Homo sapiens: one gene and its partners. The protein of the gene in region 1 interacts with the protein of each later gene in a pairwise test. Each region holds a gene or a part of one and is shown on either strand. Other genes may lie near its edges.

Evidence for each region.
Region 2: the proteins of CXADR (region 1) and VKORC1 interact in a two-hybrid assay, tested with the Homo sapiens proteins (one study listed by BioGRID).
Region 3: the proteins of CXADR (region 1) and FAM3C interact in binary tests that used the Homo sapiens proteins (3 or more experiments, as listed by UniProt).
Region 4: the proteins of CXADR (region 1) and ANKRD46 interact in binary tests that used the Homo sapiens proteins (3 or more experiments, as listed by UniProt).

What each region holds. Positions count from the first base shown.
Region 1 is NC_000021.9:17,508,952-17,516,055, forward strand, and holds the start of CXADR (coxsackievirus and adenovirus receptor isoform 1 precursor), read left to right. Parts: upstream 1-4,091; 5' UTR 4,092-4,178; coding exon 4,179-4,221; intron 4,222-7,104. UniProt on the Homo sapiens protein: Component of the epithelial apical junction complex that may function as a homophilic cell adhesion molecule and is essential for tight junction integrity.
Region 2 is NC_000016.10:31,091,790-31,099,679, reverse strand, and holds the start of VKORC1 (vitamin K epoxide reductase complex subunit 1), read left to right. Parts: upstream 1-4,882; 5' UTR 4,883-4,950; coding exon 4,951-5,123; intron 5,124-6,258; coding exon 6,259-6,368; intron 6,369-6,813; coding exon of another isoform or gene 6,814-6,897; intron 6,898-7,890. Other genes in the region: zinc finger protein ENSP00000375192-like, read left to right, coding at 4,302-4,796.
Region 3 is NC_000007.14:121,393,297-121,401,171, forward strand, and holds the start of FAM3C (protein FAM3C precursor), read right to left. Parts: upstream 3,013-7,875; 5' UTR 2,866-3,012; exon of another isoform or gene 2,829-2,865; intron 2,726-2,828; exon of another isoform or gene 2,393-2,725; intron 2,176-2,392; exon of another isoform or gene 1,654-2,175; intron 1-1,653. UniProt on the Homo sapiens protein: May be involved in retinal laminar formation. Promotes epithelial to mesenchymal transition.
Region 4 is NC_000008.11:100,549,738-100,556,759, reverse strand, and holds part of ANKRD46 (ankyrin repeat domain-containing protein 46), read left to right. Parts: intron 1-5,026; exon of another isoform or gene 5,027-6,220; intron 6,221-7,022.

The DNA of each region.
Region 1 (7,104 bases):
GACAGATGGAGATCCGTCCCAAAAAAAAAAAAAAAAAAAAGAGAGTTTCTTAATTCACATGTCTTCATATTCCAAGCTGAGAAGAGATGAAAATCCTTTAATTCTTAAGTATAAATTAACCTTTGAATATGATTGTAGGATTTTAATAATCTATGGGTGTGTTCATAGATCTATTAGTGCTGAGACATTTTTGTAAGGATGGATGCTTTATTAACCACAGTTATTTGTGTATCTGTAATTATAGCCTTGATGGAGCAAGGATCATCACCTTTAAGCTGGTTTAGAGGCTATATAATGTGGAGTGCTTGGTGCATTACTAAGACAGGGCAATTCACTTAATGGCTGTGCACTATTTCTTAGCTTGGTTTGAAGACAAAAAAGAATAATTTATATGTTCCAGAATAAATGAGATTATCTTATTATAGCTTCCAGAAGACATAATTTCCAAGCTGACAACAGCCACAAATGCATTTTAAGGTGTCTTTAATATATTTCACATAACTGCATAATTTTAGCTACTGTTTATGAAATAATTTAGTCACAAACCAAAGTCTAAAAATGACTTCATGTAACTTTTTAAAGAACAATACTTCCCCAAATAAGATCGACTGCTTCTTTCAAGATTATTTAAATCTTAGAATGGTACATTTTAAAAAAATCTGTGTTCAGTAATCTAAAGCAGCAGAAAAAAATTGATGTAAAACTTACGTTTTAAAAAACGCATTCTGGGCTGGGCACAGTGGCTCACGGCTGTAATCCCAGCACTTTGGGAGGCCAAGGTGGGCGATCACCTGAGGTCAGGAGATCTAGACCATCCTGGCTAACATGATGAAACCCTGTCTCTACTAAAAATACAAAAATTAGCCGGGTGTGGTGGAGTGCACCTGTAGTCCCTGCTACTCAGGAGGCTGAGGCAGGAGAATCGCTTGAATCCAGGAGGCCAAGGTTGCAGTGGGCGAGATCACGCCACTGCACTCCAGCCTGGGCGACAGAGCGAGATCCTGTCCCCCTCTCCCAAAAAAGCACATTCTGAAAAGATATATTTAAGGTGCAATGATTTGTTGTTGCACAGATACTTAAATTTTATTAACATATTGCCATAGAAAATAAGCATTCAATTCAACTTGAGAAATACTTGAGAACCTAGTATGTGCTTTCAGAAGTGACGAAGACAAAAAAAAAATGTGCTTTTTCAGCCTTCTAGAAGTATTTAGAACAAGAAAAGTGATTAATAGGTATGCAAATGCCTAACACAGAAGGAGGCAAAAGCTAAGAATTAGAAGAAAAAGTACCAGGAAAGGGATTAAGATAAAAATCCTTTTGGGTAGTTGTTGTTCCTCTTCCTCCTCCTCCTCCTTCCTCCTCCCTTCGTCCTCCCGGTCCTCCTCCCTCCTCCTCCTAAATCCTTTCGGGTAATTCCTCCCCCCCCCCTCCTCCTCCTAAATCCTTTTGGGTAATTCTTCCTCCTCCTCCTCCTCCTTTTCTTCTTCTTTCTGCTTCCTTCTCCTTCTTGGATCAAGGCTCTCTGCAACCTCTGCCTCCTGGGCTCACTTTATTAGCTCCACTTACTGAGATCCTGCTTACCGGGTTCCTGCACATAGTAAGTGGAAGATAACAAAACTAATATTGGATAATATTTGTCCTCCTACCTCAGCCTCCGGAGTAGCTGGGACTACAGGCACTGCGCGCCATCACATCCGGCTCATTTTTTATTTTTAGTAGATATGGGGGGTCTTGCCATGTTGCCCAGGCTGGTCTCGAACGCCTGGGCTCAGGCGATCGTCCACCTCTGCCTCCCAACATGCTGGGAGTTCGAGACCAGCCTGGCCCATATGGTGAAACCCCGTCTCTACTAAAAATACAAAAATTAGCCGGGCGTGGTGGCGCGCGCCTGTAGTCCCAGGTACTCGGGAAGCTGAAGCAGAAGAATCGCTTGAACCTTGGAGGCGGAGGTTGCAGTGAGCCGAGATGGGGTCACTGAACTCCAGCCTGGGCGACAGAGCGAGTATAGAAAAGTTCTCGTAGAACACTGTTAAACAGATGAACAACTTCAATACTTGCTCTTCTCTGCTTGATTTCATTTAGTGTGGTGAGTAAAAATTTAAATTCCAAATATTATTTACACGCAATTATATCCAGTAGAATTCCTGTTTGCTCAAATGGGAAGTCCCTAGCCGTTACTCATGTTGTCTTACGTCTGTATTGAACTCTTATTAGTTTGTAAAAGCTTTGGCAGAACTTTACAATCAGATGGTATGATTTTGCAAAGCCACTTCCTCTTACTACCACTGGTCATCTGTCATTTATTGGGCTGCCGTAAAGCAGGATTCCCCTTAAATCAAATTAAATTGGAATCACTTGAGTAAGGCTCAGGTACTAGTATATATATACATATATAGATAGATAGATAGATAGATATATTTTTTTTTTTTTTGAGACGGAGTCTCGCTGTGTCGCCCAGGCTGGAGTGCAGTGGCGCAATCTCGGCTCACTGCAAGCTCCCCCTCCCGGGGTTCACGCCATTCTCCTGCCTCAGCCTCCCGAGTCGCTGGGACTACAGGCGCCTGCAACCACGCCTGGCTAATTTTTTGTATTTTTAGTAGAGACAGGGTTTCACCGTGTTAGCCAGGATGGTCTCGATCTCCTGACCTCATGATCCGCCCGCCTGGGCCCCCAAAGTGCTGGGATTACAGGCGTGAGTCACCGCGCCCAGCCAGGCACTAGTATTTTTAAAACATTCTCCAAGTAATTTTCATGTGCAGCCAGAATTGCAACTCACCAGGCTAAACTGCAGTTGCGCAATTCTGGTCTTCTTGATACCTGATTTCTTTGCCCCTTCTCTTTTCTGGTTCAATGCATAATAAGAATTTTCCAATATTAGTTTTATTAGCTTCCACTTACTGAATTCTGCTTACGGGGGTTCCTGCTTAGTCTAGATAGTAAGCAGGAACTTACAAACTATGTAAGCTTATAGACTACATAAGCAGGAACCCTGTAAGCAAGAACTCAGTAAGTGGAAGCTAATTAAAACTACGTGCCAGGCAGGGTGCCAAGCATTTTTTGTGCATTATCTCATTTAACTTTCATAGCAACCCCGAAGTAGGTGCCATTTCTATGAAACCTGCCCAGTTACTGCCCCACTCCGCGGAATAAGCTCTTACCCACCGCTCCTCTTCTTCAATTCATTTCTGTTATGGAACTGTCGCGGCACTACAAAGTCTCTATGTAGTTATAAATAAACGTTATCTGGAAGAGCAGCCGACAACAACTTTCAAGATCTCCAATTCCCCGACCCCACACTCCAACTGACGCCTTCAACCACAACTACTGAGCCCCACTTTCAAAGCTCACTCACTAATATTGGATAATAGTTGTCTGCCTACCTCAGCCTCCGGAGTAGCTGGGACTATAGCGTCTTACTAGCCAGCTTCAGGGCTAGAATAGCCTTTCTGTGCAAGTGGAAAAAACCTCAGGTATTTCCCAAATCGGTAGCTGCAGAGGGGCTCTATCCCTACCAGAGATGGAGAAAAGCCCTCTCGCGCTTTTTATGTCAGCCAGAGCGGCTCGTTAAGAGAGCGAAGGCCAGGGGCTGCACAGGTCGCATCCCGTGAGCATGAGGTCAGAGAACCTGCCCCTGGGGCAAACCGCGAGGGGTGGGACGGGTGGGTGCAGGCGGGGCGGAGGGTAGGAGCCGCCCTAGTGGCGGCCCCTGGGAGTGTCCCGTGCCTCGCCTTAAAGGAGGGCGCCAACGCAATTTCAGTATGTGGGAGACGGGCTGCCCCACCCCCGCGCGCAAAACCCTGGTTTAGCTTAAGGGATGGAGGCGGGGACCCCTGCGCAGGCTTGCGGCGTGGGAGGCGGCCGCCCGCGACCTACGACGCCGCGCGCCGGGAGGCTGAGAGTTCGGCGCCGGGAGGGTCCCGGGGACAGAAGAGCGCCTCGCCCGGTTGCCAAGGCAACCCCACGCGGCTGGAGAAGCCGGCGCTCGCAGCCCGGCCCGGGCCGCTGCCGGAAGTGACGCGAGTTCACCTGCCGAGCGGGGGCTGGGAGGAGGGGCGGAGGGTGCAGAGGTGCCGCCGCCGCCGCGAGCCAGTCGGGAGCGCGCGAGGCGCGGGGAGCCTGGGACCAGGAGCGAGAGCCGCCTACCTGCAGCCGCCGCCCACGGCACGGCAGCCACCATGGCGCTCCTGCTGTGCTTCGTGCTCCTGTGCGGAGTAGTGGGTGAGTAGGGGCCATGGGGTCCTCAGCACCCGCCCAGCCCGGGGGCGCTCGCTGCCCGCGGCCACCCAGGAACAATGGGGCGTGGGGGAGGGGGCGGGCGCGATTTGGGGGCGCTGCTGCAGGGGCGGCGGGGCGGGCAGAATTGCACAGGGGCGCTTTTGCTGGGCCGGGCGCTCCTGGAGCCGTCCCGTAGGGAGCCGCGCAGGGCGCGCGGAGTGCCCGGGGACGGAGCCCTCGGCGGGGGGTGGAGGCGGAGGGGCTCGGGCGCGGCGTGTCGGGTGCGCCTCGCAGCTCTCCCATAGCATTCTCTGCCCCGGTGCGGGCTTGCCTTTCTTTGCTCTCGCCGTCTCCCTTGTCAGCCTTCGTGTCGGTTCTCTCCAGCGTTACCCGATTTCAAAAACCTTGGGCGGCGAGTTTTCAGGTGTCGAGTCGCCCAGGCGGGGAGGCTGAATTGCAAACGCCATTATTCAATGGACATGGAGCTGCCCGGTGCCTCGGATCGGCCAGGCTACCTCTAGGAAAGAGGCGCTGAGCGAACGCCAGCCTGGACGGTGTTAGTCTCCTGGAAGCAGCTCGCCCAGGCAGGAGCTGCTAACCAGACGCGCATTGTGAAGGAGACCGTGGAAAATCAAAAGTGGGTTCCTGCAAAAATGTAGCATTGGTTTCTGCAGTCCTTGGGCGAAGTGCAAAGGAGAATTCAGTGACCTCGTTTTTGAGTTTGTAATGAGTCGTTCATTTTGGAGATAAGACGGGCTGAGTTGTACAGGGTAATTGCTAGAGGATTTGCCAAGTGCGTTTGTCGACTGCTCCTTTCTCTGGGAGGGGAAAAAAGGCATGTGAAAAATGCGTGGACCATTAGGAGGCGTAATCATTTTGACACTTTAAAAAACGGATTTTCCATGTCGGTGTTTTAACCAACTGATCTTGTTTGTCAAACTAAGCACTTGCTGCGTTTTATAACCAAATAATTCATTTTTAAAAATCCGTAGGTGGGATCCTAGGAGGCGCACTTAGTATAGCCTCTGGAAGGGTAATTTTTTGTTGTTAGGTGCTCTGAAGCAGGATCTAGTGGCCCTTTCTGTTGGGATGGCTCTCTGCTTCCTGTTGAAATGTTAATTCCATTGTTGGATGCCACAGCTGTGAGCATTACTCATGGGATCAACATTCTATTAGCAAGTCTAATCTTCGATCTGAGCCTATAGCACTACCTCCACCTTTTTGATATATATCATTTAGACTTGGCGGGCTGAAATGTCCAAAGTAAGCCTTCCGGAGAAGATGAAGGGTCATAGAACCAGTTTACAGGTACATTCCCACCTTTCTTTCTTTTTTTTCTTTTTTTTGTCTAGGCCGAACCTGAAGATGAAGTTGAGAACACAGTGTGTTCTCTGGGAAAAAAAAAAAAAATAGTTTTAGACCACATCTAAAGCAGAAAAGTGGAAGAACATAAATTATGTGGAGGAACTTTTTTTTTTTTTTAAATGGAGTTTCGCTCTTGTTGCACAGGCTGGAGTGCAATGGCGTGATCTTGGCTCACCACAACCTCCGCCCCCCGCGTTTAAGCGATTCTCCTGCCTCAGCCTCCTGAGTAGCTGGGATTACAGGCACCCCCCACCATGCCCGGCTAACTTTTTTATTTTTAGTAGAAACCATGTTGGTCAGGCTGGTCTCAAACTCCCGACCTCAGGTGATCCGCCTCCCTCAGCCTCCCAGAGTCCTGGGATTACAAGCGTGAGCCACCATGCCTGGCAGGAACTAGTTGTTGTTGTTTTAACGGGAATATTTAGATAATTGGATTTAATTTTTTTTTTTTGGAATGCCTCACTTTGATAGGCACAATTCTAAGAAATAATATTTTGATGCAGAGAGTCATTGTGCTCATAAGGTATACACGGGTACAGTGAACATCTACTCGAAGGGCCAGTGTCTCAGCTAAACAAGGCAACTATCTTTATTCCAGTTTTTCAGTTTAAGAACAGCTGAGGCCAGGCACGGTGCTTGTAATCCCAGCAATTTGGGAGGTTGAGACGGGAGGGTCATTTGAGTGTAGGAGTTTGAGACCAGCCTGGGCAACATGGCGAGACCGCATTTCTACAAAAAATACAACAAAATAAAACCCAAAAAGAACTAGCTAGGTGCAGTGATGCTTGTCATAGTCCCAGCTACGCGGGAGGCTGAGATGGGAGGTTTGCCGGAGCCTGGGAGGTCTAAGCTCATGAGGTCTAAGATCATGACGCTGCTCTCGAGCCTGGGCGACAGAGTGAGACTCTGTCTCAAAAAAAAAAAGAAGACATACTAATTGATGAATGGCTTTATTTCTTCAGATATTTCTGACCATTTAGAAATGCATTGGTATGGGCCGGGCGCGGTGGCTCACGCCTGTAATCCCAGCACTTTGGGAGGCCGAGGCGGGCAGATCATGAGGTTAGGAGATCGAGACCATCCTGGCTAACACGGTGAAACCCCGTCCCTACTAAAAATACAAAAAAATTAGCCGAGCCTGGTGGCAGGCGCCTGTAGTACCAGCTGAGGCTGAGGCAGGAGAATGGCGTGAACCCGGGAGGCGTAGCTTGCAGTGAGCCCACATCGCGCCACTGCATTCCAGCCTGGGCGACAGAGCTAGACTCCGTCTCTGAAACAAATAAACAAAAAAAAAGGCATTGTTATTAACTCAAGTTCACTGTTAACATGATTGACTCCTACTTTAGCAAAACAAGGGAAAGACTCATTCAGATTATACCGTCAGTGATAGATATTCCTCCAGCTCTGAAACAGTTTTGTGGTATACTCTGGCTGCAGATGGGACTCCTTTCGATGCATTTTTATTGGCTGCCTACTAGTGAGTCATACTACTAGTAATCAGTAGTAGCAGCAGTAGTAAGC
Region 2 (7,890 bases), on another chromosome or scaffold:
TTTAGGAAGCCAAGGAGGGCGGATCATGAGGTCAGGAGTTTGAGACCAGCCTGGCCAATATGGTGAAACCCCGTCTCTACTAAAAACACAAAAATCAGCCACGCATAGTGGCTGGTGCCTGTAATCACAGCTACTCAGGAGGCTAAGGCAGGAGAATCACTTGAATCCGGGAGGCAGAGGTTGCAGTGAGCCGAGATTGCACCACTGCATTTCAGCCTGGGCAGCAGAGTGGGACTGTCTCACATTAATTAATTAATTGATTAAATGCTAGAAGAAAATATGGTCAAAATCTTTTATAACTCTTGGAGTGAGGAAGGCAATCTCGGCTCACTACAACTTCCACCTCCCGGGTTCAAATGATTCTCCTGCCTCAGCCTCCTGAGTAGCTGGGATTACAGGCACCCACCACCATGCCCGGCTAATTTTTGTATTTTTAGTAGAGACGAGGTTTCGCCATGTTGGCCAAGCTTGTCTTAAACTCCTGACCTCAGGTGATCCACCCACCTCAGCCTCCCAAATTGCTGGGATTACAGGCATGAGCCACCATGCCCCGCCTAATTTTAAAAATGTTTATAAAGACAGAGTCTTACCACGTTGTCCAGACCTGTCTCAAACTCCTGGGCTCAAGTCATTGTCTTGTCTCAGCCTCCCAAAGTTCTGGGACTACAGGTGTGCACCACCACACCTGGCTAATTTTGTTTATTTTTTATAGAGTGAGGGTCTCCCTGTGTTGTCCAGGGTGTCTCAAACTCCTGGGCTCAAGTGGTCCTCCTGCCTCAGCCTCCCAAAGTGCTGGGATTATAGGCATAAGCCACTGCACCTGGCCCCAGTGTGTGTCTTCTGAGGCTAAGTCATAAAGAGATTGCGGCTTCTATTTTGCTTCCTCTTAGATCACTCATTCTGGGGGAAACCAACAATAAATAACAGGAACACACCAGGAGATCAGAGAAAGCTGAGATACAGGCCTAATGCCCAGTCCTCTGTATTCATTTCTAATTGCTGCTGTAACAAGTTACTGCACATTTAATGATGTAAAACAACACAAATTTATCTTACAGTTCTGTAGCTTAGAAGTCTGACAGAGTCTCACTGGGCTGAAATCAAGATGTTGATAGTTCCTTCCCGGTGACTCTAGAGTGAGAATCCAGTTCTTTACCCTTTCTTGCCTTTAGAGGCCACCCGTATTTATTAGCTCACAATCCCCTTCCTCCATCTTCAAACCAGAAACATTGCAGCTCTCTGTGTCTTTTTTCTTTACTCACATCTCCCTCTGACTTTCTTCTGCCATCCTCCTTCATTTTTTAAGGACCCCTGTGGGCCAGGCATGGTGGCTTATGCCTGTAATCCCAGCACTTTGAGAGGCGGAGGCAGGCGGGTCACCTGAGGTCAGGAGTTCCAGACCAGCCTGGCCAACATGGCAAAACCCCATCTCCACTGAAAATACAAAAATTGGGCCAGGCACGGCGGCTCACACCCGTAATCCCCATACTTTGAGAGGCTGAGGCAGGTGGATCACTTGAGGTCAGGAGTTCAAGACCAGCCTGGCCAACATGGTGAAATCCCGTCTCTACTAAAAAAAAAAAAAATTACAATAATTAGTCAGGCGTGGTGGCCAGCACCTATAATCCCAGCTACTTGGGAGGTTGAGGCACAAGAATTGCTTGAACCCGAGAGGGGGAGGTTGCAGTGAGCTGAGATTGCACCACCGTACTCCAGCCTGGATGACAGAGCAAGACTCTGTCTCAAAATAAAAATTAAGATAAATAATAAAAAATAAATAAAAATCAGCAAATTAGGCCAGGTGTGGTGGTGGCTCATGCCTGTACTCCCAGCACTTTGAGGTGGGAAGGTTGCTTGAAACCAGAAGTTTAGACCAGCCTGGGAAACAAAGTGAGACCCCATCTCTACAAAAATAAAAATAAATTAGCCAGGTGTGGTGGGACGTACTTGTACTCCTAGCTACTAGGGAGGCTGAGGTGCAAGAATCGCTTGAACCTGGGAGACGGAGGTTGCAGTGAGTTATGACAGTGCCACTACACTCCAGCCTGGGTGTCAAGGGTCTTTGAAAAAATAAACAAAATAGGCTGGGCGTGGTGGCTTACACTTGTAATCCCAGCACTTTGGGAGGCTGAGGCAGGCAGATCACAAAGTCAGGAGTTCGAGACCAGCCTGGCCAACACAGTGAAACCCCGTCTCTACTAAAAATACAAAAATTAGCCAGGCATGGTTGCACGCGCCTGTAGTCCCAACTGCTCGGGAGGCTGAGGCAGGAGAATGGCTTGAACCTGGGGGGGGGCGGAAGTTATAATGAGCCAAGATTGTGCCACTGCACTCCAGCCTAGGCAACAGAGCGAGACTCCGTCTCAAAAATAAAAATAAAAATAAATCAATAGAGCCTGGTATGATGGCTCACGCCTATAATCCCAGCACTTTGGGAGGCCCAGGTGGGTGGATCATCTGAGGTCAGGAGTTTGAGACCAGCCTGACCAACATGGAGAAACCCCATCTCTACTAAAAATACAAAAAATTAGCCAGGCGTGGTGGCACATGCCTATAATCCCAGCTACTCAGGAGCCTGAGGCAGGAGAATCGCTTTAACCGGGGAGGTGGAGGTTGCGGTGAGTCGAGATAGCACCATTGCATTCTAGCCTGGGCAACAAGAGCAAAACTCCATCTCAAAAATAAATAAATAAATAGATAGATAGGCTGGGCACGGTGGCTCACGCCTGTAATCCCAGCACTTTGGGAGGCCGAGGTGGGCGGATCACCTGAGGTCAGGAGTTCAAGACCAGCCTGGCCAATATAGCGAAACCCTGTCTCTACTAAAAATTTAAAAAATTAGCCAGGCATGATGGCGGGTGCCTGTAATCCCAGCTACTCGGGAGGCTGAGGCAGGAGAATCTCTCGAACCTGGCAGGCGGAGGTTGCAGTGAGCCGAGATCACACCATTGCACTCCAGTTGGGCAACAAGAGCGAAACTCCACCTCAAAAACAAAATAAAATAAAATAAAATCAGGAGATTGGTCAGCTTAATTCCATCTGCAACCTTAATTCCCTTTTGGCCATTTAACCTATCATATTCACAAGTTCCAGGGATTCATGCAGGGACATCTTTGGTGACCATTATTCTGTCTACCACACTCTCTAGAAGAGAGTAGATGTGAGAAACAGCATCTGGAGAGGGAGGAGCCAGCAGGAGAGGGAAATATCACAGACGCCAGAGGAAGAGAGTTCCCAGAAGGGTAGGTGCAACAGTAAGGGATCCCTCTGGGAAGTCAAGCAAGAGAAGACCTGAAAAACAACCATTGGCCGGGTGCGGTGGCTCACGCCTATAATCCTAGCATTTTGGGAGGCCGAGGTGGGTGGATCACTTGAGGTCAGGAGTTTAAGACAAGCCTGGCCAACATGGTGAAACCCTGTCTCTACTAAAAATACAAAAATTAGCCAGACATGGTGGCAGGCACCTGTAGTCCAAACTACTTGGGAGGCTGAGGCACGAGAACCACTTGAACCCTGGAGGCGGAAGTTGCAGTGAGCCGAGATGGCACCGCTGCACTCCAGCCTGGGCGACAGAGTGAGACTCCGTCTCAAAATAAGTAAATAAATAAATAAATAACCATTGGGTCTAGCGTCTTGGTGACACCAGCCACTAGGTGTCAGGGCAATGCTGGAGGCAGCAGCTAGTTTATGGCGTGGGCAGCAAGGAAGAAGTGAGGAAGTAGAGACTGGGAGTGTAGAATCTTTCCAAAAACTTGAATGTGGAGGGGTAGATGGGATAATGCCGGGAGAGGAGGCTGGTGAAGGACCTCTTAGTGAAGGGAGATTTGTTGCTGTTTCTGAGATGGGAAAGAGAAACAAGTTGCAGTGTAGATGGGGAGGATGGAGAGGTTGAAGGTGTAGGAGAGATGGGTCACCATCAGATGGGACGTCTGTGAAGGAGAGACCTCATCTGGCCCACAGCTTGGAAAGGAGAGACTGACTGTTGAGTTGATGCAAGCTCAGGTGTTGCCAGGCGGGCGCCATGATAGTAGAGAGGTTAGGATACTGTCAAGGGTGTGTGTGGCCAAAGGAGTGGTTCTGTGAATGTATGGGAGAAAGGGAGACCGACCACCAGGAAGCACTGGTGAGGCAGGACCCGGGAGGATGGGAGGCTGCAGCCCGAATGGTGCCTGAAATAGTTTCAGGGGAAATGCTTGGTTCCCGAATCGGATCGCCGTATTCGCTGGATCCCCTGATCCGCTGGTCTCTAGGTCCCGGATGCTGCAATTCTTACAACAGGACTTGGCATAGGGTAAGCGCAAATGCTGTTAACCACACTAACACACTTTTTTTTTTCTTTTTTTTTTTTGAGACAGAGTCTCACTCTGTCGGCCTGGCTGGAGTGCAGTGGCACGATCTCGGCTCACTGCAACCTCCGGCTCCCCGGCTCAAGCAATTCTCCTGCCTCAGCCTCCCGAGTAGCTGGGATTACAGGCATGTGCCACCACGCCCGGCTAATTTTTGTATTTTTAGTTGAGATGGGGTTTCACCATGTTGGCGAGGCTGGTCTTGAACTCCTGACCTCAGGTAATCCGCCAGCCTCGGCCTCCCAAAGTGCTGGGATTACAAGCGTGAGCCACCGTGCCCGGCCAACAGTTTTTAAATCTGTGGAGACTTCATTTCCCTTGATGCCTTGCAGCCGCGCCGACTACAACTCCCATCATGCCTGGCAGCCGCTGGGGCCGCGATTCCGCACGTCCCTTACCCGCTTCACTAGTCCCGGCATTCTTCGCTGTTTTCCTAACTCGCCCGCTTGACTAGCGCCCTGGAACAGCCATTTGGGTCGTGGAGTGCGAGCACGGCCGGCCAATCGCCGAGTCAGAGGGCCAGGAGGGGCGCGGCCATTCGCCGCCCGGCCCCTGCTCCGTGGCTGGTTTTCTCCGCGGGCGCCTCGGGCGGAACCTGGAGATAATGGGCAGCACCTGGGGGAGCCCTGGCTGGGTGCGGCTCGCTCTTTGCCTGACGGGCTTAGTGCTCTCGCTCTACGCGCTGCACGTGAAGGCGGCGCGCGCCCGGGACCGGGATTACCGCGCGCTCTGCGACGTGGGCACCGCCATCAGCTGTTCGCGCGTCTTCTCCTCCAGGTGTGCACGGGAGTGGGAGGCGTGGGGCCTCGGAGCAGGGCGGCCAGGATGCCAGATGATTATTCTGGAGTCTGGGATCGGTGTGCCCGGGGAACGGACACGGGGCTGGACTGCTCGCGGGGTCGTTGCACAGGGGCTGAGCTACCCAGCGATACTGGTGTTCGAAATAAGAGTGCGAGGCAAGGGACCAGACAGTGCTGGGGACTGGGATTATTCCGGGGACTCGCACGTGAATTGGATGCCAAGGAATAACGGTGACCAGGAAAGGCGGGGAGGCAGGATGGCGGTAGAGATTGACGATGGTCTCAAGGACGGCGCGCAGGTGAAGGGGGGTGTTGGCGATGGCTGCGCCCAGGAACAAGGTGGCCCGGTCTGGCTGTGCGTGATGGCCAGGCGTTAGCATAATGACGGAATACAGAGGAGGCGAGTGAGTGGCCAGGGAGCTGGAGATTCTGGGGTCCAGGGCAAAGATAATCTGCCCCCGACTCCCAGTCTCTGATGCAAAACCGAGTGAACCGTTATACCAGCCTTGCCATTTTAAGAATTACTTAAGGGCCGGGCGCGGTGGCCCACTCCTGTAATCCCAGCACTTTGGGAGGCCGAGGCGGATGGATCACTTGAAGTCAGGAGTTGACCAGCCTGGCCAACATGGTGAAAGCCTGTCTCTACCAAAAATAGAAAAATTAATCGGGCGCTATGGCGGGTGCCTTAATCCCAGCTACTCGGGGGGGCTAAGGCAGGAGAATCGCTTGAACCCGGGAGGCGGAGGTTTCAGTGAGCCGAGATCGCGCCACTGCACTCCAGCCTGGGCCAGAGTGAGACTCCGTCTCAAAAAAAAAAAAAAAAAAAAAAAAAAAGAGACTTACTTAAGGTCTAAGATGAAAAGCAGGGCCTACGGAGTAGCCACGTCCGGGCCTGGTCTGGGGAGAGGGGAGGATAGGGTCAGTGACATGGAATCCTGACGTGGCCAAAGGTGCCCGGTGCCAGGAGATCATCGACCCTTGGACTAGGATGGGAGGTCGGGGAACAGAGGATAGCCCAGGTGGCTTCTTGGAAATCACCTTTCTCGGGCAGGGTCCAAGGCACTGGGTTGACAGTCCTAACCTGGTTCCACCCCACCCCACCCCTCTGCCAGGTGGGGCAGGGGTTTCGGGCTGGTGGAGCATGTGCTGGGACAGGACAGCATCCTCAATCAATCCAACAGCATATTCGGTTGCATCTTCTACACACTACAGCTATTGTTAGGTGAGTGGCTCCGCCCCCTCCCTGCCCGCCCCGCCCCGCCCCTCATCCCCCTTGGTCAGCTCAGCCCCACTCCATGCAATCTTGGTGATCCACACAGCTGACAGCCAGCTAGCTGCTCATCACGGAGCGTCCTGCGGGTGGGGATGTGGGGAGGTAACTAACAGGAGTCTTTTAATTGGTTTAAGTACTGTTAGAGGCTGAAGGGCCCTTAAAGACATCCTAGGTCCCCAGGTTTTTTGTTTGTTGTTGTTTTGAGACAGGGTCTGGCTCTGTTGCCCAAAGTGAGGTCTAGGATGCCCTTAGTGTGCACTGGCGTGATCTCAGTTCATGGCAACCTCTGCCTCCCTGCCCAAGGGATCCTCCCACCTTAGCCTCCCAAGCAGCTGGAATCACAGGCGTGCACCACTATGCCCAGCTAATTTTTGTTTTTGTTTTTTTTTGGTAGAGATGGTGTCTCGCCATGTTGCCCAGGCTGGTCTCAAGCAATCTGTCTGCCTCAGCCTCCCAAAGTGCTGGGGGGATTACAGGCGTGAGCTACCATGCCCCACCAACACCCCAGTTTTGTGGAAAAGATGCCGAAATTCCTTTTTAAGGAGAAGCTGAGCATGAGCTATCTTTTGTCTCATTTAGTGCTCAGCAGGAAAATTTGTATCTAGTCCCATAAGAACAGAGAGAGGAACCAAGGGAGTGGAAGACGATGGCGCCCCAGGCCTTGCTGATGCCATATGCCGGAGATGAGACTATCCATTACCACCCTTCCCAGCAGGCTCCCACGCTCCCTTTGAGTCACCCTTCCCAGCTCCAGAGAAGGCATCACTGAGGGAGGCCCAGCACCATGGTCCTGGCTGACACATGGTTCAGACTTGGCCGATTTATTTAAGAAATTTTATTGCTCAGAACTTTCCCTCCCTGGGCAATGGCAAGAGCTTCAGAGACCAGTCCCTTGGAGGGGACCTGTTGAAGCCTTCTTTTTTTTTTTTTTTAAGAAATAATCTTGCTCTGTTGCCCAGGCTGGAGTGCAGTGGCACAATCATAGCTCACTGTAACCTGGCTCAAGCGATCCTCCTGAGTAGCTAGGACTATAGGCATGTCACTGCACCCAGCTAATTTTTTTTTTTTTTTTTTTTTTTTTTTTGCGACATAGTCTCGCTCTGTCACCAGGCTGGAGTGCAGTGGCACGATCTTGGCTCACTGCAACCTCTGCCTCCCGGGTTCAAGCAATTTTCCTGCCTCAGCCTCCTGAGTAGCTGGGACTACAGGCGCGTGTCACCACGCCCAGCTAATTTTTGTATTTTTAGTGGAGACAGGGTTTCACCATGTTGGCTAGGATGGTCTCAATCTCTTGACCTGGTGATCCATCCGCCTTGGCCTCCCAAAGTGCTAGGATTACAGGCGTGAGTCAACCTCACCGGGCATTTTTTTTTTGAGACGAAGTCTTGCTCTTGCTGCCCAAGCTGGAATGTGGTGGCATGATCTCGGCTCACTGCAACCTCCACCTCCTAGGTTCAAGCGATTCTCCACC
Region 3 (7,875 bases), on another chromosome or scaffold:
AAAATTATAAAATTAGTCGTGTGTGGTGGCACATGCCTGTAAACCTAGCTACTCCACAGGCTAAGGTGGAGTTCAAGGCTACAGTGAGTTATGATCACACCACTGCACTCCAGTCTGCAGAACAGTGGGGTACCCTGTCTTTGTAAATAATTTAAAAATAAAATGAAAAATTCTGTTACAGGAATTTAATTTAAAAAAGAAAATTGGAAGAAAAAACTCACTGAAGTTAGAAAAATCATGAATAGCGGATTTTCAAAATTAGATTAAAAATAAGGGAAATATAAGAATAGCTTCAATCAAATGGAGCAGGCCAATGAAGAAGAAAAAGAATATTAATGGGTACACTGGAAAGACTTAGGGGTATTACAACACTTAATTTCCTCCTCTGAGAGGAAGTCAGCCGATTGTGTCTCAAAGAATTGCATTAAAAGAAAGTACAAAACCTTTTAAAAGTTCAAAGATTTTGGGAAATTACCTGGTTCAGTCTACTCAATCAGATTAAAAAGGACTGCATGATATTAAGTAATTTAGTCAATGCCACTCTTGAAATAACTAAATACAGAATCAATGCTTCAAATCCTGATCATCTGATCCCAAGAACAGAGACGCTTCTGGACTAAATTCAAGACAAACTTTTGCTATTATACCAAGGTCGCACAAAAATCTATCTAGCTCAGCGCTAACATAAAAATCTTTTGCTATTTGGGTCTTGCACCTTTCAGCTTTAAGAAATGGGCATAAAAATAAAAATAAAAAAGATTCCCTGCTTTAGAGAAAATAAAGTAGCTTTGTGAGTGCCCAGGCTGTCTTATTCATAGTATCCATGATATCTACAATTACTGGTACATGGTAGGCACTCCAGTATTTTTAAGAGTATAAAAATTTTTGAAAAATGAATCGTTCAAAACCTAAAATATATGGTGGAAAATATATGAGTCTTCTGATACCCCCTCAGGGAACATTACTTTTTGCCATTCCATAGCCTCTTAGCCTTTTGGCTGTCTTTTCCAATTTCCTTTTCCTTTTTAATGTATCTTCATAAATTATGAAAGATTAGTTGACAATGCTTAAGGCAGCAATCCACATTAAAAATCTGTAATTGTAATAAAACATCCATTAAGTTTATTTTTAAAGTCACTTTAAGCCAGTAGTGTCTTATTTTTACTCCCTTTTGAAACAGAAGCCCCTTACAATGAGGATTTTGAGGAACCTGTCCTGTGTCCCTCTTACAAAGTTCCCATTGGTAATTCAGAGAGGTCCTCAGGTTGAGAACTGCTGGACTGAACTCCTTTTATTGGCTCCAACTCTTCTTATTTCTTCCTATGAAGAAATGCTAGTCTTTATTGAGTTGAGAAAACATTACAAGAATCTGTGAAACAAAGCTTCTAATACCTGTATAAAACTGAAAACCTTGTGACTTTATTGGTAAACAGCCAAGAAACACAAGAGACTACTAGTAGCCTCTAGAAAGAGGTACAGGTCGATGAAGTGACCAAAACCGGATGCTGATTTGCTGATTCTGCCAATTTCTTGTTAAATGGCTTTCAGTAAGTGATTAACTTTTATTTTCTAAATTCAATAGAGATCTGCTGGTACTCTGTAAGATACTGTATGACTAATAGTAACGGTTCCCAAGACTTAAGAAAACGTAACTGCAAATTGGCCACAAGTCCAAGGGGTCGGGGCCTCTGCTATCAGCATTGACCTTTACTCTCGGGAGTTCATATTTCCATCTGTAAAACTAGAAAAGATAAAGGGACTTATTCACTGAGCTGTTGTGAGAATAAATGAGCACACGAAACCATTTGGCAGTGCCTAGTACACAGTAAGCAATCTAATATTATTTATGTCATTGTATCCATATATATATGGATACATACATATATATGGATACATGGATACATACATATATACGGATACATACATATATATGGATACATACATACATATATATGGATACATACATATATATGGATACATACATATATATGGATACATACATATATATGGATACATACATACATATATATATATGGATACATACACCTGGCTAATTTTTTTATTTTTTAGTAGAGACGAGGTTTCACCATGTTGGCCAAAAAGAAACAAAGGAAAAGTCCTATCAATTAGATAGCAGTTCTATATTACAGGCAATAATATTTTTTCTTAAAAAAAAAAAAGGTAGAGGATGATGGAAACCGCTCCTCCCACAAGTAAAACAGCTGGAGCTCTCAATCTCAAATTGCCAATCCGTCACTCACATATTCAGATCTAGGGCCACTAATCATCATCCGTGGTCCCGAGCTGTGAGAGCAGTAGCAAACAAATAGGAAGAAAAAGAAGAGACACCAAACATCAAAGGGCTGGATAGCTTGTAAAAAACCAAAAGTACCTCTAGTATAGGCGACACTAAAACTTTACAAGTGAGTCAAAACGGCCCCCTATGGAGTTGGAATGCAACACCCAACTCCGTCCCCACCTCTCGGAGCTCTCAGCCTACACGCTGCAGGGGCGCGAGCCACAGCCAACCTGGGGAAGATGCGACCCAGGTGCCCGCCCCAGGCCGGGGCGCCGAGTGCCAGCGCCAGGTGCAGACGCCGCCCCGTCTCCGCGGAGCCCGGGGATGCCCACGCCGGGGCGGCGGCCGGGAACCCCGGCCAGCGGCTCTCCGGGACCCCAGTCCCGCCTGCGCCCTCTCCAACGTCCGGACACGCCGTGACAACGCGGCCGGGCCCGGGGCCCGCCCCCGGCCGGTGACCGCAGTGCGCGGAGGCTGAAGTCGTAGGTGGGCGTCTGGCTTCCCCGGCCTCCTCCATCCCTCCCCGAACCTGAGCCCCGGCTCCGTCCGCCTCCCAGCCGTCTCACCGGCCTCCCGCCCGCCTCTCCGCCGCGCGCGCCCGCCTTCCGGCCTCCCAGCGCTCAGTCCTGCCGGAGGCCGACGGGAGCCGCCGCCTCCAGCTCGCGCCTCCGCTTCCTCTCGGACTCCTCCGGCTGCCCCTCACCCCGGCAAGTGGCCAGGAGAAAGCCAGCTCGCCGCTGGGCCTCCTCCCACGCTTCCCGGCCGCGACCAATGGGCCCCCGCCGCCGGGAAGCCGCGCCCGCCCCCTGGCGGTGGAGGACCAAGCGGGCGCCCGGGCCGGCCAGAGGGAAGGGCCGGAGAGCGGAGGGAGGGGTCTGCGGTCCCGCCCACCGCCCCCGGCCAGGCGCTGCACAATCTGAACTTGCCACGTGGGAGCTGCCGCCGCCGCAGCGGCCCTGCGCCGGGTGGCACTACGGGAGGGAGAAAAATGTGTCACCGCCGTCTCCCCACCGTTTACACGCACAAAATCCCAGCCTCAAGGGCAGAACATTTTAAATGACCCACCCATCCTAGAGATGCGCCAGTTAGGTCATCTTATATATCTTGAGATAGCTGAGATGGTCAGATCAACCAAGGACCTTGGGTTATTTGCCGTTTGACTTCTTGAACCCTAGGAAACTGATTCTGAAAATCCTACTGTCCAGCGTCATTAGAATTCTGATCACCTTTAATGCACCACCCAAGAAGAACAGTAGTCCTTGCATTTTCCAAGTCACGTTTATTTTTTAAATTATAAGATACACAATCGTTAGAAATATTTTTTCTCAGGAGATTTCCTACAATTGTGTTGATAATTGGGAAGTTAATCCAAATCTTACTACATAAGACCTTAGAATGCAAAATTATTTCATAATTCAGATCCATATTCTAAAATAATGAATAACTGTTACCTAGTATTTGACAGAATATTGGGATCATCAGTGGTTGCAGAAATTAAATTGCATTTAAAAATAGGGTTTGACTATAGTGTGTTAATATAGAATTAATAATCTACCAAATTTTAGCTTTCCTCCAAAAATATAAAACACACAAACTAATAGTAACTATGAATTCTGGAGTTTGTGATCCGTGATCAGGGGAGAAAGCATGAAATGAATTCTCATTGTCTTCCATGTGCCAATATTATGCTATTTGTGTATTACTTAAATCAAAAAACTAAGACTCCAAAACTGAGTTTAAATATCTTGCTCAAAAATACAAGATAGTAAGTTATGAAGCTGGAATTCCGGCCTAGCTTCATGTAGCTCCAAATAAACAAAAAGGCACTTTGCTTATTATAGTACCAAAAAATCATAACACTTACTGTACACATGCCTCTCCTAGACTGCTATGTCTCACTGAAAGAGTTTATGAAGCCTCTTGAGTAGGGAGGTCACGGTGTATTTCTGAAAGAGCAATCTGCTCTGTAACCGAGCCAACCAGATTGGAAATTACATGTGACATATTCTTATAGCACCACACCTGAAACAATTCCTGTGCATAAAGTTTAATGTGTTAGTAGCCTATTCTCCACTGACCATAAGATATAGCTTAGAACCCTTTGGTAGGTAATGAAATTAATAACAATGGGTCACAACCAACATTTTGTTGCTGTTGATTCACTGAAAAATAGAAAAAAAAAACAGTTCAAAGCATAAATTCAGGATAAGTATTCTTCATGAAACATTTGTACAGCATCATGTGTGGGTGAGTGTCTGTGTGTCTATGTCCTGGATACAGTAGAAATTATATTTCTTAATATGGGTTTCAATTTTTTTAACATTGGTAAATCACTTCTTTAGGACTCCTGTTAATCAGCCAGTTCTTACACCTATAAACGAGTAAGGATAACTTCCTACTTTTACTTGGCAGGAGGTAGGGGAGCCAGGAGAAGTATTCAGGATTAATGATTAAGCTTAATAAAACCACAGAGCTTTACAGCTCCAGGAGGTATAAGCCAAAGGTGTTGGCTATTACAATAACTACCGATAATTTATATTATATAATAATAGCTACTGATAATGTATATTTCTAAAGCTGATATTTATTGTGTGCTTATTGTGCACCAGGCACTTTTCTAAGCACTTTATATATATAGACTTATTTAATTCTCACAATAATCCTATAAATACAGCGGAGAAAAGTGAAACTTGCTCAAGGTCCTTCTGCTATGACCAGACAGAGCTAAGATTCAAACTCACGTGCTCAACTTCAAAGCCCAACTTTTTTGTTGACTCGAAAAGAATATACAGAGAGTGTGACATCCAGCTTCTGAGTGTCATCCTTCATAGCACAAGCAACAAAAGAGAGGATTAAATATGGATGATGTTGAGAAAGGCAAGAAGATTTGTATTCAGAAGTGTGCCCAGTGCCACACTGTGGAAAAGGCAGGCAAGCACAGGACTGGGCCTAATCTCCATGGTCTCTTCGGATGGAAGACAGGTCAAGCCGTTGGATTATTTTACACAGATGCCATTAAGAACAAAGGCATCACCTGGGGAGAGGATACACTGATGGAGTATTTGGAGAATCCCAAGAAGCACATCTCTGGAACAAAGTGATCTTTGCCAGCATTAAGAAGAAGGCAGAAAGAGCAGACTTGATAGCTTATCTCAAAAAAGCTACTAATGAATAATAATTGGCCACTGCCTTATTTATTACAAAACAGAAATGTCTTATGACTTTTTTATGTGTACCATAATTTAATAGACCTCACACACCAGAATTCAGATCATGAATAACTGACAGAATATTTTGTTGGGCAGTCCTGATGTAAAACTAAGACTGGCTTGCAGTTAAATGAATATGTTCAGTTTTTTTGAATTTTAATAGTAATCCAATTCAGTAAATGCTATCACTGTTTACCCTTTCTAAAGACATGATTTGATTAGACTTTGTTAGTAATGTTCAGCTTTTCACAAAGATGGTGAATGCCATCTTAAAACATATTGGAGATTGGTTTTATATTTGGATTTATATAACTGGTTATGTGAATATATTTAAATACTGGAGAAATTCCTTCACTATCTCAGAACCAAGCAAGATTCACCTGTGTTTTGTGTTCATTTGCCTCTTAAAGGCAAGGGTTGAAGATAAGGTAGCAATGTCTACTTTATATTTTTGGCCTTAACTATGTCAATCTAATTAGAATTCCCTGTATTTAAAATAGTTCCTTTTACTTATTGAAAGGCATTTTAGTGTGGTGTATGTGTAATATCAAATAAAGATTATTTAACACTTCTCACATTTTATAGATGATCTGTAAGATAATATGCTTTTAAAATAGTAGCAAGTTAAACTTCACTCTTGAATTATTTACAATCTAAGTCAAACTAAGTTATAATTTAGGATTGTCTTTAAACAGCCATTCAGAGGCTGGGCGTGGTAGATCATGAGGTCAGGAGATTGAGACCATCCTGGCTAACACGGTGAAACTCGTCTCTACTAAAAATACAAAAAATTAGCCGGGCGTAGTGGCGGGCACCTGTAGTCCCAGCTACTGGGGAGGCTGAGGCAGGAGAATGACGTGAACCCGGGAGGCAGAGCTTGCAGTGAGCTGAGATCGCACCACTGCACTCCAGCCTGGGCCACAGAGTGAGACTCTGTCTCAAAAAAAAAAAAAAAAAAGCCATTCAGAAACAGAAAATCGTAGAACTGCTGTGTATTTGTGATTGGGAATGGTGCTTTTGCCAACTTAAAATGATTAAAGTAGAGGAGATATACACAAATTTTAAAATTATATGTGATCATAAGGCTTAAAAACAAAACCACAAATCATGATTAAAAGAAAGGAATGTTCATTCTCTCAATAGGTGCCATATTTTATATAAAACTATAACCTGCTTTATATTACTGTAACTATATAAGAATATATAAAAAATGTATATATAAGAATTAGATAATATTGTTAAATACAAAATTTCCAAAAAGCCTCAGAATTTTAATTGCACCCACCCTCAAGAAGAAGAGTCCACTTGGTATCATTTTTCTGTATATGGAGTAGTAAATTATAGGCAAATATGGCTACCAACAATTCCCCCATTCCTGTAAGTTCATGCCACTTTGTTTTTTACCATCAAGAGGTCAATCTATGTCCTCTTCTCTTGAACCTAGGCTGGCCCCGGGACTTATTCTGACCCATAGAATGCATGGAGGAGATCTTATGTGACTTATGGGCTTAGACCCTAAGAGACCTTGCAGCTTCCATTTTCACTAGCTTCAGGATCTAGTCACCATATAGGAAACTCAGACAACTACTGAATAATGAGAAACTACATGCAGAGAGAGGCCTAGCTCTCTCTCTCCATCCACACCATCCCAACCACTTCCCCAAGGCACCAGCTATATGAGTAAAGTCGTGTTGCATGTTCTAGCTCCAGCTAAGCTCCTACCTGAGTATATCACATGAGTAACTCCAGACAGTACCACATGGAGCATAACTGCCCAGCTTAGACCAACAAACCCACAGAAACTTGAGAAATAACATACTTAAAAAAATTTACTAAGTATTGTGGTAGTTTGTTACACAGCAATAAATAACTGAATCAGGGAAGAAAACATTTGTAGGGGGAAAAGAGTTGACCAACTCTGGGGGTAGGATTACTTTAAAATATTCAAGCATGTTTATATTGGATTATAAACTCAAACCTGTGGCAAGATGGCCAGAAACTTGCCTAGCTTCTAAAGAATATAGCAGAAGAGAGAGAAAAAGAGAGGTAAAATAATAAAACTGAAAGTAAACGTGTCAAATTTTATACCTATACAGGTTAAAATACCACATCTAAGTGTCATTTGAAAATTATTATTCAGAGTTTTTATAAAAATGTGAATTTAAAACCCTTAAACTTCATCCTTGCCTGTAAGGGCAAAATAGTACAGTTCAAAAAGCTGGAGTGCGCACAGATTTCATGGCACTGTATTTGATACATTAGCAACACAGCCTATAAAATGTGGTTTAATTTACTATGAAACATGGAGGATACAGTAGAATGGCATTACAGCAAATGTATCTTTGCACAAAAAAGACTCTAAGTTTT
Region 4 (7,022 bases), on another chromosome or scaffold:
GCTGATTGACAAGTCAAGTAAGATGAAGACTAGGAGATGACCATTGGATTTAGTAATAGGAAGGTCCTTGGTGACCTTGCAAGAGCACTTTCAGGAGAATAGTGAGGAAGAAAACCTGATTGGTGTGGTTTCAAGAGACAACAGGAGGAAGAGCATTGGAGACTGCAGTATGGACAGCTCTTTGGAAGAGGTTAGCTGTAAATTTTTCATATGTCGGTTATTTGAAAGCACTGTAGTCGTTCCCATAGTAAATTTTTATTTCCAGCTTAAGCTACTGATTAATACCTACTACACTTGGATTGTTTTAATCAATGACTGGTGGAAATAAAATAGCTATCCTACTGCTGATCATAATAATAATGTATACTTAACTTTCTAAACCAATAAAGCGTGTCCTTTTTACGTAGTACATTTCAGAGCCCATAAAAATGCTTGGGTGGGCTGGGCGAAGTGGCTCATGCCTGTAATCCCAACACTTTGGGAGGCCGAGACTGGAGGATCTGTTGAGCTCAGGAGTTCAAGACCAGCCTGGACAACATAGGGAGAGCTCATCTCTACAAAAAACTTTAAAATTAGTTGGGCGTGCTAGCACACACCTGTGGTCCCAGCTACTTGGAAGGCTGAGGTGGAAGCATCTCATGGGCCTGGGAGATTGAGGCTTCAGTGAGCCATGATTGAGCCACTGCATAGTTTCAAATGTAGTAGGTGTATAAAAAGAATGCAATTTTTATCTTAAGGCATGAGTTCAGGTTCTTGTTTCTGCCCTCAGCAAGTTAATGTCCAAACCCAAATACAAAATAATCAAGGTACGCAGTAAAATACCAGATTTACACCATCCTGACTGGATAAATGTGCCTTTTCCATAGCAAATACAGCCATCTGTTGCATTGTAGATGTAAAATGATTAAAATATTTCAAAGTTTAGGGTTATAGCTACTGATTTTTTAAATCCAATAATTTTATCTAAAAGATAACAGGTCCTTTAGATGTGGAAATCTTTTTTTTTTTTTTTTTTTTTTTTTTTTTTTTTTTTTTTTAGCTGAGGAAAATATTAAGTTGGTGCCTTTTGTTTTGCTCTTGTTTTTTTCTCCAGGAATTTTTCATTGGTTGGCTCTCCTTTCTTGTTCTCATTGCTGTCATCTCACACATCCTTTCTAACTTTTTTCTTTTGCATAGCTTCTTAAGTTAGGCCCTTCCATCACTGATTTCCTTACTGCTTATAATTTGGATTTTAAATTTCTATTGTGTTTTTATTTAACTTATAGTCTTTTTTTTTTTAGTCCCAGTCCTCTTTAATACTGTTTTTTCCCCCACCCTGAGTTCTTAATTTTTTGTATGTCCCTGAGAGCACAGTATTTTTCTGGATTTTTTTCATTTTCTTATTGTAAGTAATTCTCAGTGGTGTGCTTTTCTTCATGTAGATCTAGTGCACCTCTTTGCTTCTGGTGTAGAATTTTTTCACTGACTCCATGTTGACTTTCTTTTGGTTTTTTTTTTATCCTTTAAAAATGAAAGAACTTCTGAGACTATAATATTGAATTTGTCATACTAGTACCATTCTACTGAAGGTTTTTTCTAGATTTCCTATAAGGAAAATAATTAGAGAACTGGGTTTTGTCTAGGCATTCTATAAAAGACACTATTGTGATGTTTGTAAAAGATTTCTATTTAAAATAACTTTCAGTACTATTAGAACTTAAGTTTATGGTTATGTCTCTGTGATAAGTACTTTTTTTTTTTTTTTGGAGATGGAGTCTCACTCTATCACCCAGGCTGGAGTGCAGTGGCACAATCTTGGCTCACTGCATCAAACGATTCTCCTGCCTCAGCCTCCTGAGTAGCTGGGACCACAGGCACACACCACCACACACAGCTAATTTTTGTATTTTTAGTGGAGATGGGGTTTCATCATGTTGGCCAGGCTGGTCTCTAACTCCTGACCTCAAGTGATCCACCTCAGCCTCTCAAACTGCTGAGATTACAGGCATGAGCCACTGCACCTGGCTAAGTACTTTTTTTTTCCTTGTGTTTTTTTGAGACAGGGTTTTGCTCTGTTGCTCAGGCTGGAGTGCAGTGGCACAATCATGGCTGAATGCACCCTCCACCTCCCAGGCTCGAGTGATCCTCCTGCCTCAGCCTTGAATATCTGGGACAACAGGCACGCACGCACCACCATGCAAGGTTTATTTTTAAATTTTTTTTGTAGAGATGGGGTTTCACACTATGTTGCCCAGGCTGGTCTGGAATCCTTAGGCTCAAGTGATCCTCTTGCTCCAGATTCCCTAAAGTGCTGGGACTATAGGTGTGAGTCACTGCACCCAGCCAAGTACTTTTTAAAATTAAACTGGTAAACAGACATTAGAATTACCAATGTAAACTTTATATCTAAAACCAAAATCAATTACAAAGGATCATTATTTTCCAAAGTAGATACTTTTTTTTAGTGCTGTTCAGTTTTTCTGAAGCTTATCTTTGTTCACAAGGATTGTTAGCACTTCCACCAAATCAGTGTTTAGAAACCTTAAATAATTTAACGTCTGACTTGCCAGTACATTATTAGAGAAACAATTCCAAGACCAAAACATGTTGAATAAGCAGGAGATATACACCAATTTGATTTTAAAATGGACAGCTTTCCTGTCTCTGGCTCTCTCTCATGTTGCCTTAAACACACATATGCTGAAGAAATCATATACAGATACTTGCATGCATTTAATAAACTATCCAATAAGTGGTGCTTTTAATAAATTCTGAATACAATCAATTAAAAGATTTGTGCACATTATTATTTAGGTATGGTACCAAGTAAATCAGAAACAAATGCAAGAGCACGAATGGTTTATTTAGCTACCTTTCCATATTGGGTCTTGATGACATTAGATACTCTGCTGTATTTTATTTTTTAAAGTAAACATATTAAAACTAGCCAAATAACCTATATTTTCTTTTATTACATTATGATGCCTTTTTTGGTTTGCCTGAGTTTTTTTGGTTTTTGTTTGTTTGTTTTTGAGATGGAGTTTTGCTCTGTCTCCCAGGCTGGAGTGCAGTGGTGCAACCTCAGCTCACTGTAGCTTCCGCCTCCTGGGTTGAAGCGATTCTCCTGTCTCAGCCTCCCAAGTAGCTGCGACTACAGGTACATGCCATCACACCCAGCTAATTTTTGTATTTTTAGTGGAGACGGGGTTTCACTATATTGGCCAGGCTGGTCTCAAACTCCTGACCTCAAGTGATCTGCTGTGGCCTCCCAAAGTGCTAGGATTACAGGCATGAGCCACCACACCCAGCCTGCGTAAGTTTAATTAAAAAAACAAAAATATTCTGAGTGTGACTTTGTTGAAACAGTTTATATAGGCATTTTAACTTTGGTGGCAGTTTTAGTCCTACTATCAGTCATCTTTTTTCCAGTAGCCCAGCATTGCTGCTACGTTAATTTAAATCTGCCCCTCTGCCCTCTCCTCAGTCTTTTGGCTGTATTTTGCCCATTGGCTGTTAATGCTGATTTTTTTTAAACACAACAAAAACTGTGGATTGCTTATAAAAGTTTTCCCACAATAGGCTTATTTTTATTTCACTTGTTTATTCAGAATATCCTTTCAACTTGTTTTTCGGTTATCTCCTTGGTCAGTTCTAGAATTTACCAAGCTCTCAGTCAGTGTTCAATCTCCTGTGCTGAACATGAGATTTCTTAGGCCTGGATTCAGCTCCTTCTCAAAGAGAGTTAAATATCAGTGCACTTCACCCTTTGACCTTTGTCTTTTGCTGAAACATGTGCCACAAACCATATTTTTTTCCTTTTTAGGAAGCAATGACAGAAGCATATAAGAGTGGAAATCAAATAGTAATGACCACTTCAGATTCTGTGTCATTTAGATATTTTGTTCTAAGTAACAGAAAACCTAATTTAAACTGTCTTAAAAAGATCCTTTATTGATACCCGTAATAGGAAAAGCCCAAGGCTTGACCCTTTTATCTGTTCTGCCTCACTCTGTATACTTGCTATCTATGAAATATAAAAATGACAAAAGCAATTTTAGGTATCTCATTTATACACCATAGAAAAATAAAGTGAATGTATTTCTCTGGCATTCCAAGCAAAGAGTTTTATTGGACTGGTCACTTGCTCACCTTTAAATAAACCACAATAGCTAGGGAATGTGATATGTTACATGGCCTTAGATAATAAAGACTGACCCCTCCAAAGCATATGAGCAGTGAAGAGTAGTGGAGTTGGGTACCAGTGGAACAGGTAGGAATGGAGTCTAGGTAGACAGGGGACATCTGAGGAAATTAAAAACACATAGTTGATTTTCAGTCAAAATAATATATTAAATTCATGTTTGGGCACCTGGCAATAACTGATGTTAAAAAAAAAAAAGCGCCAAAGTATAGTCAGAATAGTAAATAGGATAACCATCTCTATAGAGTACAAGCACAAAGTAATGAGTGAGGCTGTAGCTGTTTTGGAATTGGCCAAAATGGAAATCATCCAATATCTGATCTCAGACGAAAAGGAATTAAATTACAATTTGATAACAGAAAGATAGCCGGAAAATCACTGAATACTTAGACATTAAATAACACATTTCTTTTTTTTTTTTTTTTTTTTTAAGACAGAGTCTCACTCTGTCACCCAGGCTGGAGTGCAGTGGCGCGATCTTGGCTCACTGCAACCTCCACCTCCCAGGTTCAAGCTATTCTCCTGCCTCAGCCTCCCGAGTACCTGGGACTACAGGTGCACACCACCACACCTGGCTAATTTTTGTATTTTTAGTAGAGACGGGGTTTCACCATGTTGGCCAGGCTGGTCTTGAACTCCTGACCTCAGGTGATCCGCCCACCTTGGCCTCCCAAAGTGCTGGGATTATAGGTGTGAGCCACAGCACCCAGCCCAAAATGTTTTCAAAAGACATATATGATGAAGACTGTTATCCAAAATACACAAAGAACTCTTAAAACTCAACAAAAAGAGAGGTGGGTATGGGTGCTGGCTGAGGTCACTCAGTGCTGACCATCCTCTTCTCAAAGCCATGTCTCTAAGACATCATGGTGAAGGTGAAGGCCAGAGTAAATAGATTTGGGCCATATTGGGCACCTGGTCACCAGGGCTGCTTTTAACTCTAGTAAAGTGGATATTGTCACCATCAATGACCCTTCATTGACCTCAACTACATGGTCTGCATGTTCCAGTATTTCTACCCATGGCAAATTCCACCACACCGTCAAGGCTGAGAATGGGAAGCTTGTCATCAATGGAAATCCCATCACCATCTTCCAGGAGCAAGATCCTACCAAAATCAAATGGGGTGATGCTGAAGCTGAGTATGCCGTGGAGTCCACTGGCATCTTCATGACCATAGAGAAGGCTGGGGCTCACTTAATGGGGGAGCCAAAAGGGTCATCATCTCTACCCCCTCTGCTGATGCCCCCATATTCATAATGGGCATGATCCCTGAGAAGTCTGAAAACAGCCTCAAGATCATCAGCAATGCCTTCTGTACCACCAACTGCTTAATCCCCCGGCCAAGCCCATCCATGACAACTTTGGCATTGTGGAAGGACTTGTGACCACAATCCATGCTGCCACTCCTGCCCAGAAGACTCGATGGCCTCTGTGGGAAACTGTGGCATATGTCTGTGGGGCTCTCCAGAACATCATCCCTGCATCTACTGGTGTTGCCAAGGCTGTGGGCAAGGCCATCCCCGAGCTGAACAGGAAGCTCACTAGCATGGCCTTCCGTGTCCTTCTGCAAACGTGTTGGTTGTGGACCTGACCTGCCATCTGGAGAAACCTGCCAAATATGATGACATCAAAAAGGTGGTGAAGCAGGCGTCAGAGGGCCCCTCAAGGGCATCTTGGGCTACACTGAACACCAGGTTGTTTCCTCTGACTTTAACAGTGACACTCACTCTTCCACTTTCGATGCTGGGGCTGCCATTGCCCTCAGTGACCACTTTGTCAAGCTCATTTCCTCGTACAACAGTGAATTTGGCTACAGCAACAGGGTGGTGGCCCATATGGCCTCCAAGGAGTAAGACTGCTCGACAACCAGCCCCAGTGAGAGCACAAGAGGAAGAAAGAGACCTTCAGCTTCTGGGCAGTCCCTGCCATGCTCAGTCCCCCACCACACTGGGAATCTCCCCTCTTCACAGTTTCCATGCAGACCCCACAAAGAGCTCTATCTTGTCGTGTACCATCAATAAAGTCCTCTGTACTCAAAAAAAAAAAAAAGATAGAAAATGAACAACCTGATTTTAAAAATGAGCCAAAGATCTTAATGGACACCTCATCACAGAGGATATACAGATGGCAAATAAACATATGAAAAAGATGCTCCACGTCATATGTCATCAGGGAAATGCAAATTAAAACAATGAGATCCCACTACACACTTACTAAAATGGCTAACTAAAATCTAGAACGCTGACAACACCAAATGCTGGTGAGAATGTGGATTAACAGGAACTCTTATTCATTGCTAGTGGGAATGCCAAATGGTACAGCTACTTTGGGAGACAATTTGGTGGTTTCTTAAAAAAACTAAACATACTCTTACCATCCAGCAATCATGCTCCTTGGTATTTACCCAAAGGAGTGAAAAACTGTCCACACAAAAACCTGCATGTGGGTGTTCATGTCAGCCTTATTCATAATTGCCAGAACATGGAAGCAACCAAGATGTCCTTCAGTAGGTGAACAGATAAACTGTAATACATACAGAGAATGACATATTATGCAGTCCTAAAGAGAAACTATGAAGCCATGAGAAGATACAGAAAACACGTATTATGAGGGAAAGAAGCCAATCTGAAACAGCTGCATACCGTATGATTTCAGTTATATGACATTCTGGAAAAGGCAAAATTATAGAGACAATAAAAATATCAGGGGTTGGGTAGAGAGAGGGATGAATAGGCAGAGCCCAGAAAATTTTTAGGGCAGTGAACCTAATCTGCCTGATGCTATAATGATGAATACATGTCATTGTAAATTTGTCTAAACCCATAGAATGTATAACACC